Linked DNA regions of Homo sapiens: region 2 is linked to region 1. A link means that fine-mapping ties the variant in region 1 to the expression of a gene that starts in the linked region. Tissue or cell type: tibial artery. Region 1 holds a variant in brackets; the other region holds the start of a gene. All regions are shown on one strand. Distances are between the middles of the regions.

Region 1 (6,252 bases):
ATTTTGTTGCTGAAGCAAGTGACCTTGGCTGAGGGCATATAATCTCCCGCAGGTTAGCCTGGGAGGGAGGGGCAGCAAATATTTTCACAGGGGTACAATCAACCACACTAGGTGTCCCAAACCCTCTTTTGTTCTGTGTGCTTTTCATGCTGTGCTTAAGAAATAATTCCCTAACCAAATGCCATAAAAAAGATTCTCCTACATGTTCTGTGAAAGACTTGATTTTTACATTTGTATTTTTGACCTATCTGGAATCTATATTTGGGTATGGTATGAGATAGAGATCTAATTTTATTATTTTTTTAGTTAATCAATTACACTGCCAAGACAAGCTCGGTTGTGGAGACCCTAACCCAGTGGCACTAGAGAAATTAAAGACACACACACAGAAATATAGCATGTGGCCTACAACGGGCCATATCATTTGAGGTTGAGGTGTCACTATACTGCTATGTTTCCAGATAATAGGAACTCTTGCTGTACTTCCTACCATTTCTACCATCTGACCATTTTGTTCAGACCAGCTGAACATAGTGTGGCCGTGGCATGCAGACTGAGAGGTGCTATTTAAGCTAAATGTCCCCTTAGGGGACCAATCAATAATGATTCCATAGGAATCGTTGCACAGCACCTCTGCCTGTTCTGCAATTCAATCTTCCCAAACAAGTACATTCATTATTTCTAACTGGGTCCAATCCTGTTTACAAATAAGTTTTTGAGGGCGGTATGCCTCAATTATAGGAGTAGATTTATTATGGTAAATACTGAGACCAGAAAGCATGTGTAACTGTCATAAAGTGATTACATCCAGGCATTATTGCCAGCCAAGATTGATAAATATGCCCAATAAGTATAATTATTCTCTGTGTCAGCCCTTGTTGAAGGAATACTCATGGCAATGGTGATCACCGCTATCATAGCTACCATTAAGTTACTCATTGTGACTGGTTGTCCCGCTTTCCTCAGGTTTTCTTCCGCCATCTGTGACAGCTTCTTGATCTGTCCCCAGGTAGGTGGCTGTGTTCGACAGGTGCTGCTCGTGACAGCTGGGGTCCTTCTCAGTGTCAGTCTCAACATGGCTGTAACTGGGGGGTCCTCAGGATCCTCCCGGAATCTCTTCCTCGGCATCTGGCTCATGATAAGGTTTCAGGTGTCCTGATGATATCCAAATTGGCTGTTGATTTGGTCCTGGAGAAACACAAGCATAACCTCTACCCCAAGTTATTATTTTACCTATTTCCCAACTTTTTGTTATCGGATCTCTCCACCAAATGAGTTGTTCTGCCTCTGTCTTTGCAGCTGGTTTCTGTAGATGCTGTTCAGCTTCTGATAGCATCTTGCCTTTCGGCAGGCTCAAAAAATTTAAAATTATTAATGCTAGATTCAGTTGCATTTGGGATGTCCCATAGTCACTATTTCTCCCCCTTTTTTGTTTTTGTAACTGCTGTTTCAGGGAGAGATTCATTCTTTCCACTATGGCTTGCCCTTGAGAATTATATGTGATACCAGGAATGTGTTTAATATTCTATACAGAGAAAAATGTAGCTAGAGCTTGGCTAGTATAGTCTGGGGCATTATCTGTTTTAATAGAAGCTGGAATGCCCATCACCACCAAACACTGCAAAAGGTGACATTTAACACAGGCAGAAGACTCTCCTGATTGGCATGTAGTCCAGACAAAGTGAGAAAAGGTGTCCACACATACATGTACATAAGCTAGTCTCCCAAACAAGGGAACATGTGTGACATCCATTTGCCAAAGAGAGTTAGGTTCCAATCCTCGAGGATTAACTCCTCCTGTAAAAGATGAGGAATGTACCATTTCACAAGTTGGGCATCGCTGGATAATAGCTTTAGCTTCTTTCCAGATAATGCTGTATCTGTGTTTGAGACCAGAGACATTAACGTGTGTTAAATTGTGAAAGTGTCTAGCATTAGATATTGCATTAGCAACTAGGCGATTAGCCATTTGATTCCCTGCAGTCAAAAGTCCCGGAAGAGGTGTATGAGCCCTAATGTGAGTGATGTAAAAAGGGTGCATTCTTTTTTTTTTTTTGAGACAGAGTCTCGCTCTGTTGCCCAGCCTGGAGTGCAGTGGTATGATCTCGGCTCACTGCAAGCGCCACCTCCTGGGTTCACGCCACTCTCCTGCCTCAGCCTCCTGAGGAGCTGGGACTAGAGGTGCCCGCCACCATGCCTGGCTAATTTTTTGTACTTTAGTAGAGACGGGGTTTCGCCGTGTTAGCCAGGATGGTCTTGATCTCCTGACCTCGTGATCTGCCTGCCTCAGCATCCGAAAGTGCTGGGATTACAGGCATGAGCCACTGCACCCAGCAAAAAGGGTGCATTCTACTCTTAACTGCTGTTTGCAATTGAGTAAAGAAAGTCATCAGTTGTTCATCTGTATGAAATCATAACTGAGCATTTTCAATTAATTGTGTGGAATGAACCACGTGTGAAGAATCAGAAATCACATTAATAGGCATATCAAAAGCAGTGAATACCTCAATTACAGCTAAGCTGAAGTATAGAGCATTTGGAAAACTTTACCTTTTGATCCAGAATAAGAAGCTTTACCATTACTAGACCCATCTGTAAAAA[C/T]ATTCTTAGCACCTTCAATTGGTTTAAATTAGTTATTTTAGGGAAAATCCAATTAGTTAATTTCAAAAATGGAAACAGTTTCGTTTTAAGAAAATGGTTATCGAGAATACCCACAAAGTCAGCTAAATGGGTTTAATGAGTAAGACTATTTATAAAAGCTTGCTGTATTTGTGCCTTCATGAGGGACAATAATTTTTCCAGGATCATATCCATGTAATTTAACAATCTGAGTTCTCCCATTTCCTATCATAGTCACGGTTTGATCCAAATAAAGAGTTAGAGTCTGTGAATTAGTATGTGGAAGAAAAAGCCACTCTACAAGATCTTGCTCTTGAACAATAATACTAGTAGGTGAATGCTGAGTTGGAAAAATTAGCAAATCTAGAGTCTTCTCTGGATCTATTCAATTTATTTGAGCTTTATGGACTTGCTTTTTGATTAGCTGCAGCTCTGCCTGAGCTTCTTTTGTTAATTGCCAAGGCTAGGGAGACTAGGATCTCCTCTAAGGATAGAAAATAGATTACTCATGGCATAGGTAGGAATGCCTAGAGCAGGTCATATCCAATTAATGTCCCCTAGTAATTTTTGAAAGTCATTTAATGTTTCCAATTGATCCCTACATATGGCTACTTTGTGTGGCACAATGGTAATATCATTTACTAAGGTCCCCAAGTAGGAGTAAGGAGTAGCAGTCTGAATTTTGTCAGGAGCTATAATTAAGCCAGCACGAGAAATTGAATTTTGCAAGTGATCATAACATTGGAGTAATATTTCTTGAGTGGAGGCAGCACAAAGTATATCATCCATATAATGAATAATGTAACACTGTGAAAATTTTTTACGAGTAGGTTCAATTGCTTGCCCTACATAAGTCTGGCAAATTGTTGAACTGTTTAATATGCCTTATGGCAACACTTTCCAATGATAACACTTAGCAGGCTGCAGGTTGTTTACTGCAGGAATTGTAAATGCAAACCATTCACAGTCTTGCTCAGCTAAGTGGATAGTAAAGAAACAATCTTTTACATCCATGACTATTAAAGGCCAATTTTTTGTAATCATAGAAGGAGAAGGCAATTCTGGCTGTAATGTCCCCATAGGTTGTATAACTGAATTAATGCCTCTTGAATCAGTTAACATTCTCCATTTACCTGATTTTTTCTTAATTGCGAAAACTGGAGAATTCCAAGGGGAAAATATTGGAGCTATGTGTCCTTTTTCTAATTGTTCATTAACTAATTCCTTCAAAGTCTCCAGTTTCTCTTTACTTAGTGGCCATTGTTCTATCCAAATTGGCTTATCTGTTAACCATTTTAAAGGTATAGATTCTGGAGGCTTAACAATGGCTGCCATCAAAAATGATATCCTCAACCTTGGCAGGAACTTTGTCTTTCTGCTTGAAGCAGTTCCTTCAAACCTTGCAAATTTTTTCCTAGTCCCATACCAGGGACATATTCCATTTCATGCATCATATGTTGACTTTGAGGGCTATATAACTGTTCTAGAATTAGAACTTGTGCTCCCCATTGTTGTAATAAATCTCTTCCCCATAAATTTATAGGTACAGAAGTTATAATTGGTTGAATATTCCCAGGTTGTCCATCAGGCCCTTCACAGTGCAAAATATAACTACTTTGATATACTTCAAGGGCTTTACCAACTCCAGCTACATTAAATTGAGCGGGTTGAATTGGCCACGTGGACGGCTGGTGCTGTAGAGAAGTGATTGAAATGTCTGCTTCTGTATCTACCAAACCTTCAAATTTCTTTCCTTGAATAGTTATTTCACAGGTAGGATGTTTATCAGGAATTTGATTCACCCAATAAGCCGCTTTGCCTTATTGATTTGTGCTTCCAAATCCTCCTGTTCATTTAATTTCACTTTTCCCCATTTCCACATACAGCACAATCAGGAGCTGTGTTATAGGCTCTCCTGGCTCTGTTTTCCAGGGAACGGAAGTAGATATAACAATTTGAATATCCCCATTGTAATGTGAATCAATGACTCCTCTTTGTACTTGTACCCCTTTTAAATTTAAACTAGACCTTCCTAGAAGTAATCCTATCATCCCCGCTGGCAAGGGTCCACAGACTCCTGTTGGGACCTTTTGTGGGGGTTCCCTAGGCAGAAGACTCATAGCTTTTGTGCAGTATCAATCTACTGCAGTACTACTGGCTGTGGCGCTGTGGCGGGGGACAAATATTGTATAGGGGTGAGGGAGTGGCCTGAGCTGGAAATGCCCCAGTTTGGAACGGGGCCCAGGATGGGCCCTGCATGGCATTTCCTGAATTTAAAAGGAAAAGGCTCAAATGTAGCTATATTTCCCTGTTGATTTGGGGGGTGTATGCTAACAGGGAACTGCCAAGCCTCTAAATCATCCTTTCGTTTAGCTTGCTGAATTCCTGCCTGAATAGAACTGAGAGTGGTCACTCAAGGTGCTGCTCGAACAGTTACTGGGGCAACTACTTTTTGCCCAGTGTCCTCCAGAAAAGAAAGATCTGGAGGGTCAGGCCACTCTTTTTCTTCAAAATAATGAGGGGATGCAGAAGGGTAGGGATGAACCTCTTCCTCCTTTGCCGCTTTAGCTTTAGCTGGCAAACAAATCTGCTCTGTTACTTCTTCTGTTACTTCATTATACTCTCCTTCCTCCTCATCATCAGTGTGAAAAGGTTCCAAGATGGAATGAACCAGAGCCCACAGTTGTCCCATTGTTACCCTGATGCTTCCAAGCTCCCCTTCTTACTCACCATGGGGATTGCTTAAGATACTCAGGTGAAGTGATCCACCCACCTTGGCCTCCCAAAGTGCTGGAATTACAGGTGTGAGCCACCACACCCGGCCTTGATTCCAGGTCTTTAGATAATAACTTAATGATTTCAACTAACTGCCAATCAGAAAATCTTTGACTCCACCTGTGACTTGGAGCCCCTCCAGACCCTGTGCCTTCCCCATCCACTTCAAGTTGTCCCGCCTTTCTGGATTGATGTCTGCCTGTAACTTCTGTCCTCCTCAAATGTATAAAACCAAGCTGTAAACCAACCGCCTTGGGCACAGTTTCTCAGGAACTCCTTGGGCTTTGTCACAGGCCTTGGTCACTCATATTTGGCTCAGAATAAACCTCTTTAAATATTTCAAAAAAAAAAAAGAGTACTCAGGTGTCCTCCAGCTTAGTTCCACGTTCTCCAACCATCACTCCAATGACCCTTCGACCTGGGTTTGAGCCCCACGTATGGGCATCATTTGCTGAGACCAGCTCGGTCATGGAGACCCTAACCCAGTGGTGCTAGAGGAATTAAAGACACACACACAGAAATATAGCATGTGGAGAGGGAATTCAGGGGTCTCACAGCCTTCAGAGCTGAGAGCCCTGAACAGAGATTTACCCACATATTTATTGACAGTAAGCCAGTGATAAGCATTGTTTCTATAGATTATAGATTAACTAAAAGTATTCCTTACCGGAAACAAAGAGATGGGCCAAAATAAAGAGATGGGCTCTGGCTAGTTAACTGCAGCAGGAACATGTCCTTAAGGAACCCATCACTCATGCTATTGTTTGTGGTTTAAGAATGCCTTAAGTGGTTTTCTGCCTTGGGTGGGCCAGGTGTTGCTTGCCCTTATTCTGTAAACTGACAGCCTTCCAGCGTGGG
Region 2 (6,252 bases), 100 kb after region 1:
TCTGTGTGTTATCTTTTATTCTTTTTCCCCTAATATTTTTGATCTTCAGTTTTTGAATCTACAGATGTGGAACCCATGAACATGGAGGGCTGACTGTATATCATAATTATCTGCTGTCTAGTTGATATATTTGGAGTTGTTCCTGCTTTTGCTTATTATAAGCAAAGCTAGCATAAACATTTATGTCCAACTTTTTTTTGGTAGACGTAGGTTTCCATTGTCTTGGGTGAATCCTTATAAATAGGAGTGTTGAGCCATACTTTGGGTGTAGGTTTATAATTATAAAAACTACCAAAATTTCCCAAGGTAGTTTTAACATTTTGTACTCCTACCAATATATGTAGGAGAGTTCTGGTTTTCCATGTCCTTGTCAATATGTGATGATGTTAGTCTTTTTAATTTTAGTCACTTTTGTGGGCATGAAATGGTATCTCACTTTGGTTTTAATTTGTATATTTCTGCTGACTAATGATATATAATACTTTTTCATATGCTTATTGGCCATTTATAAATTTTCCTTTGTCAAATGCCTGTCAGAGTCTTTTGCCCATTAAACAAAATTGTTTGTTCATGTTTATTATTGAATTGTAGGACATGTTTTCTATAATCTAGGATTTGTGTGTATCAGAATATTTTCAGCTATCAAGAGTATTCAGATATATGTATCATCTAGACTCTGGCTTGCCTATTCATTTTCTTAATGGTGACTTAGGATAAGTGGAAGCTTTTAATTTTGATGAAGTCTCTTTTTTTTTTTTATGGTAAGTGCTTTCTGTATCCTAAGAAATCTTTGCCTACTGCAAGGTCAGAAAGCCATCTTTAAAAAAAGTTATATTATATTTTAATAGTGTTATATATTTTAGCTTTTATGTTGAGGTGTACAATTCATCTTGAATAAATATTTGTGTTCACAATGTAAGGTAAGAGATGGCGTTCCTTTTTTCCTCATTCATGTTACGTTACTGGACATTCACTTTTAAAAAATTGTTTTATTTTATTTGTAATTGACAATAATTGTATATATTTATGGGGTATAATGTGATGTTTTGATACATGTATACATTGTAGAATGATCAAATCAGGCTCATTATCTGTCACCTCAAATATTTATCATTTCTTTGTAGTAAGAACTTTTGAAATCCTCTCTTTTAGCTATTTTGAAATAGGCAACATTATTATTAACTATAGTCACTGTGCTGTGCAATAGTACACCAGAGCTTATTTCTCCTTTCTAACTGAAACTTTGTACCTATTAACCAATGTCCCCCCTTTCCCTGTCCACCTTTCCGTCCTCCAGCCACTGGTAACCACCATTCTACTTTCTAGTTTTACAAGTTTGTCCTTTTTAAAATTTCACATATAAGTGAGATTATATGGTATTTGTCTCACTGTGCCTGGCTTATTTCACTTAGCATAATGTCCTCTAGGTTCATCTATGTTGTTGCAAATGACAGAATTTCCTGTTCTTATAAGTCTGAATAGTATTCCAGCATGTGTGTGTGTGTGTGTATGTGTGTTTGTGTGTGGTATGCATAATATATATACATTCATCTGTTGATGGACACTTAAGTTGTTTCCATGGCTATTAGAATAGTGCTGCAATAAATATGGGAATGCAGACATCTCTTCGACAAACTGATTTAATTTCCATGGGATTGGGGAACTGACTTTTGATGTCCAAACTTAGTATATAATACCTCAAAAGCCAGAATGCCAATTATTTTGTGTTATAAAGTTGTTTGGCTATCAATCCATATTTTTGCATGAGGTAGTTATCTTGCAGGTAGGCCCATTGAGAAGACTAGAAGATAGTCTTGATTGATTCTTGTTGAAATTGAAATTAGAGTAAAGGGACATCCAAACACTTATCCAATGAACTACAATGACATACAACTCACTCAAGCCTTCCTTTTTCTAAATTTTCTCCCCAAATAAAACAACAGCAGCAACAACAAAGACAACAAAAACGTATGCGTTTCTTACAGCTTTATGATGTGTTTCAGTGTCTACAGTACTGCTGAGTTTGCATCTCTTGCATGTTGTATCTTTCTGGTAACATATGGAAGAAGCTTCATATTCATATAAGTATGCTAGTTCTAAAACATAATGTGGAATCATTTACAACTCAGCACTACTTGGTAGCAATAAACAGAAACCCACCTCAAAAGAGTGTAAGCAAAAAAGGAATTGAATTAGATTACGTAATTTGAGAAGTCCAAAGGCTGGAGTTGGTTTAAGCGAAATTTGTATTGAAAATTTTTCTTACATAAAAAAGGTAAAACAAATTTGGTAAACCTAATTTTTTTTTATAGTGCAAGTAGTCAACTGTTGTCATTCTAAGAAACTATTATTTATGGATAGTAAAACTGTTTGGAGACTTTAAAAATACCCTATAACAGTTAAAGGCAGAGCAAATTACTGAAATAAAATTGCGATATTTGCCCCAAATAGTAACAGTACAATTTTCATCAGTTCTCTAGAAAATTATCTGCAATTAAAAAAAAAAGAATTCTGATGTGTTAACTCAAATTAATCAGTATTTTCTTTGTACACTCAGATTGCAACCTAAGTATTAGTCTGTTGAATTTGGTTTAGTGGATATTTATTCAGGATTTTTACAAAAACAAGGAAACAGAGAAGAGGAATAGTGCTGTGCAGATGACCTCGGGGTTCAGGCGACACTCAAATGCCTGCTTCTCCTCTGAGGTTATTACCATCTCTTACTTGTTTGACGTTTAGAGATACTACAAGAGATAGTTGAAAAGCAGAGGTTGCATTTCCAGTGGTGTTTTGCTCTGCTGGTATTTGCTCCTCCGTGCTGCTGTGCAAAGGGCCAGAACTGCATCGAATGGATCTTTTCTTCAGGTTGTGCAGGCTGGCTGCCTTGATGTCGTAGTTGCTGATGTTGGCTGCCGACGAACCTTATTCCTTTACATTTGCCTGGTCCTCATTTCACCGGAAAACACAGTAGCTGTAGCTGCACATAGACGCTTCCTCTTTCTGTTTCCCCCTCATCCCCCTCCCTAGACCTCTCTGGGCTTTGACGTCATGTGTGCTCCTTTCGGTTGCCATAGCAACCCCATTCCCCAAGCCCTCTGTCCGTCTCCTCTGGTAGGTTCCACAATGGTACAGGCAGCATCACGCTGCACAATGGTTTCCAGGCAGTGAAAGAGGGTGATTCAGCAAGCCACTCTTCTTCTATTTTCTTTAACCTCCCCTTCACTTTTTATTTTTATGGGGGTGGGTGGTGCTTGCTATATGCTTACCTTTTTCTTTTCTTTTTTCATTTTTACAAATTTCCTTTTTTGTCCTCACCCCTCAATTCCTAGGGGCTTGAGTGAGTTTAAGATTGGGTTTTCTTGGAAATCACCTGTCCATCGTTAATTTTAAACAATCTCCATATCTCCAAAGAATCTCTTCCATGTTAGTCTGGAATGTGGTTAATGAAAAACAAGTAGGGAGGATTTCTGGGGCAAACACTGCCGGATCAGGATCGTAGTTCTCAGGCACGGAATGGTAGGTGGCTCTTTGCTCGTTCTGGGTTCTAACCTGTTTTTGGAGGGTGGGGTGATGTCTATTGATTGCTCCTGGTGGGGCGGGAGAGGGAGTATGGAAGAGACGAGAGAGGTGGGGTGGAAAGCAGGTTAATCAAGTGAACTAGCTTTGAAGCAAGAAGCTACCAGTTTTTCCCTCTGTGCAGAACATCTCTTTCCAGACTTGGGCGTGTTGAAACCTTTCCATTTGGAGTGAGGGGTAGCAGAGGGAGGGAGGGAGCATTCTTATTGTGACCAGGGGTTTTTAGACCAATGCAGGGCTACAGAAGGGAAGGGAGAGAGAGAGAAACACACACACACACACACACACACACACACACACACACACACAGAGAGAGAGAGAGAGAGAGAGAGAGGAAAAAAAAAACACCAAACAGCTGTGCTTGTTAGAAGTGCTGACCTTAGTTCCATATCTGAAAAATGTGATGGGTTCCATAAAACATTAAAAATAATGTCTTTTAGTATGTATTTATGTTTACTTTTGTGAGAAGTATAATTTAAATATTTTAAGATGTATTTTACTAAGGAACAGTATTTATATATATATTAGATATAAAACTATTGGCGTTACTCTTGCAGAGCAACTCTAGGCTAAATCTGAGCCGGGGAGAGGAACACAGAACAGGGGTCAGGTTAGAGATAAGAGGAAACATTGGCACTGCAGTCAAATAGGTAAGGGGTCCCTTTAAGAAAGTGATCTCCTAGTCACAGCAGTCAGCTTTCTTTTTTTCATGGCAAGATTCCCAGGTATTCTGTGCTGGGATACTGTGTCCCCTGCAAATGTCAGAGCTCTTTTGAAAAAAAAATCAGAAATAAGTATGGCAGTATATTTGTTAGAATCTATGTATTTGTGCCTTCAACAAAATAAATGTAATTTACTGGAAAATCTGTAAGTAAATCAGGCTATAGATATTACAAGAAAACTATCTATCCATATATTTTTCTCACCCTCCCCAAACATTTAAATCTAGAGACCTAGTCTCTGCTTTTACCCCCTTAAACAGATAACTTCCCAGGGTACTGCAATTTAGCCACAGAAAAAGAATGGCTTATGCCACAGCAGTAGGCTCTGAAGCAATCACAAGGTTGTTTACATGGGCTGCCTTTGGTGCAGAGCCTGACAGTGTCTGTACAGCAGCCCTGCCTGCTTCTGGCCATGTTGATGATAACTTTTATGAACAAACTGCAAGGAAGCAGGCTAAGTCATATGGGATAGACTACAGTTCAGGTGGAAGGAAAACGAGTGTAAGTGCACCAGGCATTGCCAGCACAACATCCAATATCTCCTTCTATCCCTCATCGGCTAGTTGTCGGACCCTGGAAGATAACACAGAATGCTTATCAACATATTTAAAATAGTTGCAGTAAGGACCATTTCTCTCAGAGAAGCTTCTGTGAATTTTCTACTTTAGGTGAGCATATATGTTACAAATATATAACAAATAAATATATAAGTATATCACAAGCTTCTGACTCCACTTCAGAACCATTAGATTTTAGGGGCTGGATGCTTTGGATGTAGCGGTTTGGCTGCCTCTGGTATGTATTTCCTTCTCTACCTTGATCACACTCTTAAAATTGACATAAAGTATTGGATTAGCTTATTTTCTTATGTGGAGCAAACTGGGTTTTCTCTCCCCTACAATGGGACTAGAAAATCAGATGACAAAGGTGGTGTGACCTTAAATATTAGAGAGTCTTCATGCTTCCTCATTTGCCTGTCATTCCTCTGCTGTTGCAAAGTGTCTTTAATTTGAGGGGCTCCTGTTCTTAAAAAATCCTCACAGTTTCAGTAAAACGATTCTGGATAGTGAGGCAGTAAGAAATTATATGTAGAGTGGGAAAATCAGCTGCCTCCAGCTTCCTGCCTGCTAGCCCCAGAACAGCATCTGCTGTTGAGAGGAGTGTGTTTGCCATGCTGGAAGGGGATGTTTATGAACAGATCCCAGAGGGGCTGAGTGTGTTTTTGCTGTCATTGTCTGGTATGTCTGCAGCTATTAGTATTTAATGGTTTCATAGTACATGGTCTATATATTCTAAGGTTAGAATGAACTGATAATTTATTGTCAATGCTATAAAATGTAGATATTTTAAATTTATAGGAAAATTAATAAGATTTTCCTTGTTAGGATATCCTACAGGAACATCATAAGCAAAACAAATTTGCCCAACCTAAGTAATCTAGAAAAACCTCCCATGTTTAAAGGCATAAATATATTTTTAAGGTTTTATTGTGGTTTCATGTAAATGAATCTGTTTCTTTGGATGTAAGCCTAGTTATAAATTCTTTTTATACTGATACTAAAAGCTAAAGACAAATTGGGTATTTACTTGTTTGTTAAATATGGGGATAGATGTTCTCCCTTCATGCTCTAGTTCTGGCCTCAGGTCACATTTGTAGCCAAAGGACTTTCAGTGGAATTGGTGTGTTCAAATCGAATGATTGCTTGGTTGCTTATCAGAATAAAGGACTCAAAGCAAGAGAGACTTCCTTCAATTAGAATGAGAAGCAAACACATTGTTGTCTTAAATTCTTTCTTCATTGCCCTTTCTATTTCCTCTTACAGTCTCTTTTAAGCTTTTGGTTGGACATTGCAACAATCATGCAGAAAGAGGCACGGAAGTGTCCAGTAGTGACAAGAATGGAGTACAATGCTCTATTTGCTGCAGGACTGCTGAGTGCCTTCCTCCTACCACA

Alleles and levels. Alleles are on the strand shown, and positions count from the first base shown. SD is a standard deviation of normalised expression in the study named.
For the expression in tibial artery of the gene that starts at base 3,121 in region 2, C is the high allele of the variant in region 1 and T is the other (moderate effect, 0.48 SD a copy in GTEx).

The links. PIP is the estimated chance that this variant, and not a neighbour inherited with it, causes the effect. A credible set is the group of variants that fine-mapping cannot tell apart.
Region 2: MAPK10 starts here. The variant in region 1 is the best candidate, but not a certain one, in a credible set for the expression of MAPK10 in tibial artery (GTEx, PIP 0.86).

Annotation. Positions count from the first base shown.
Region 1 is chr4:86,460,624-86,466,875 of GRCh38, reverse strand. It overlaps a transcript of MAPK10 not described here. Among named protein-coding and RNA genes, the nearest start is that of MIR4452, 79 kb to the left of the region's middle. The variant C/T (reference allele first, on the strand shown) is at 2,602.
Region 2 is chr4:86,356,922-86,363,173 of GRCh38, reverse strand. MAPK10 (mitogen-activated protein kinase 10) reads left to right here and starts at 3,121. Exons shown (of 14, transcript NM_138982.4): 1 at 3,121-3,516.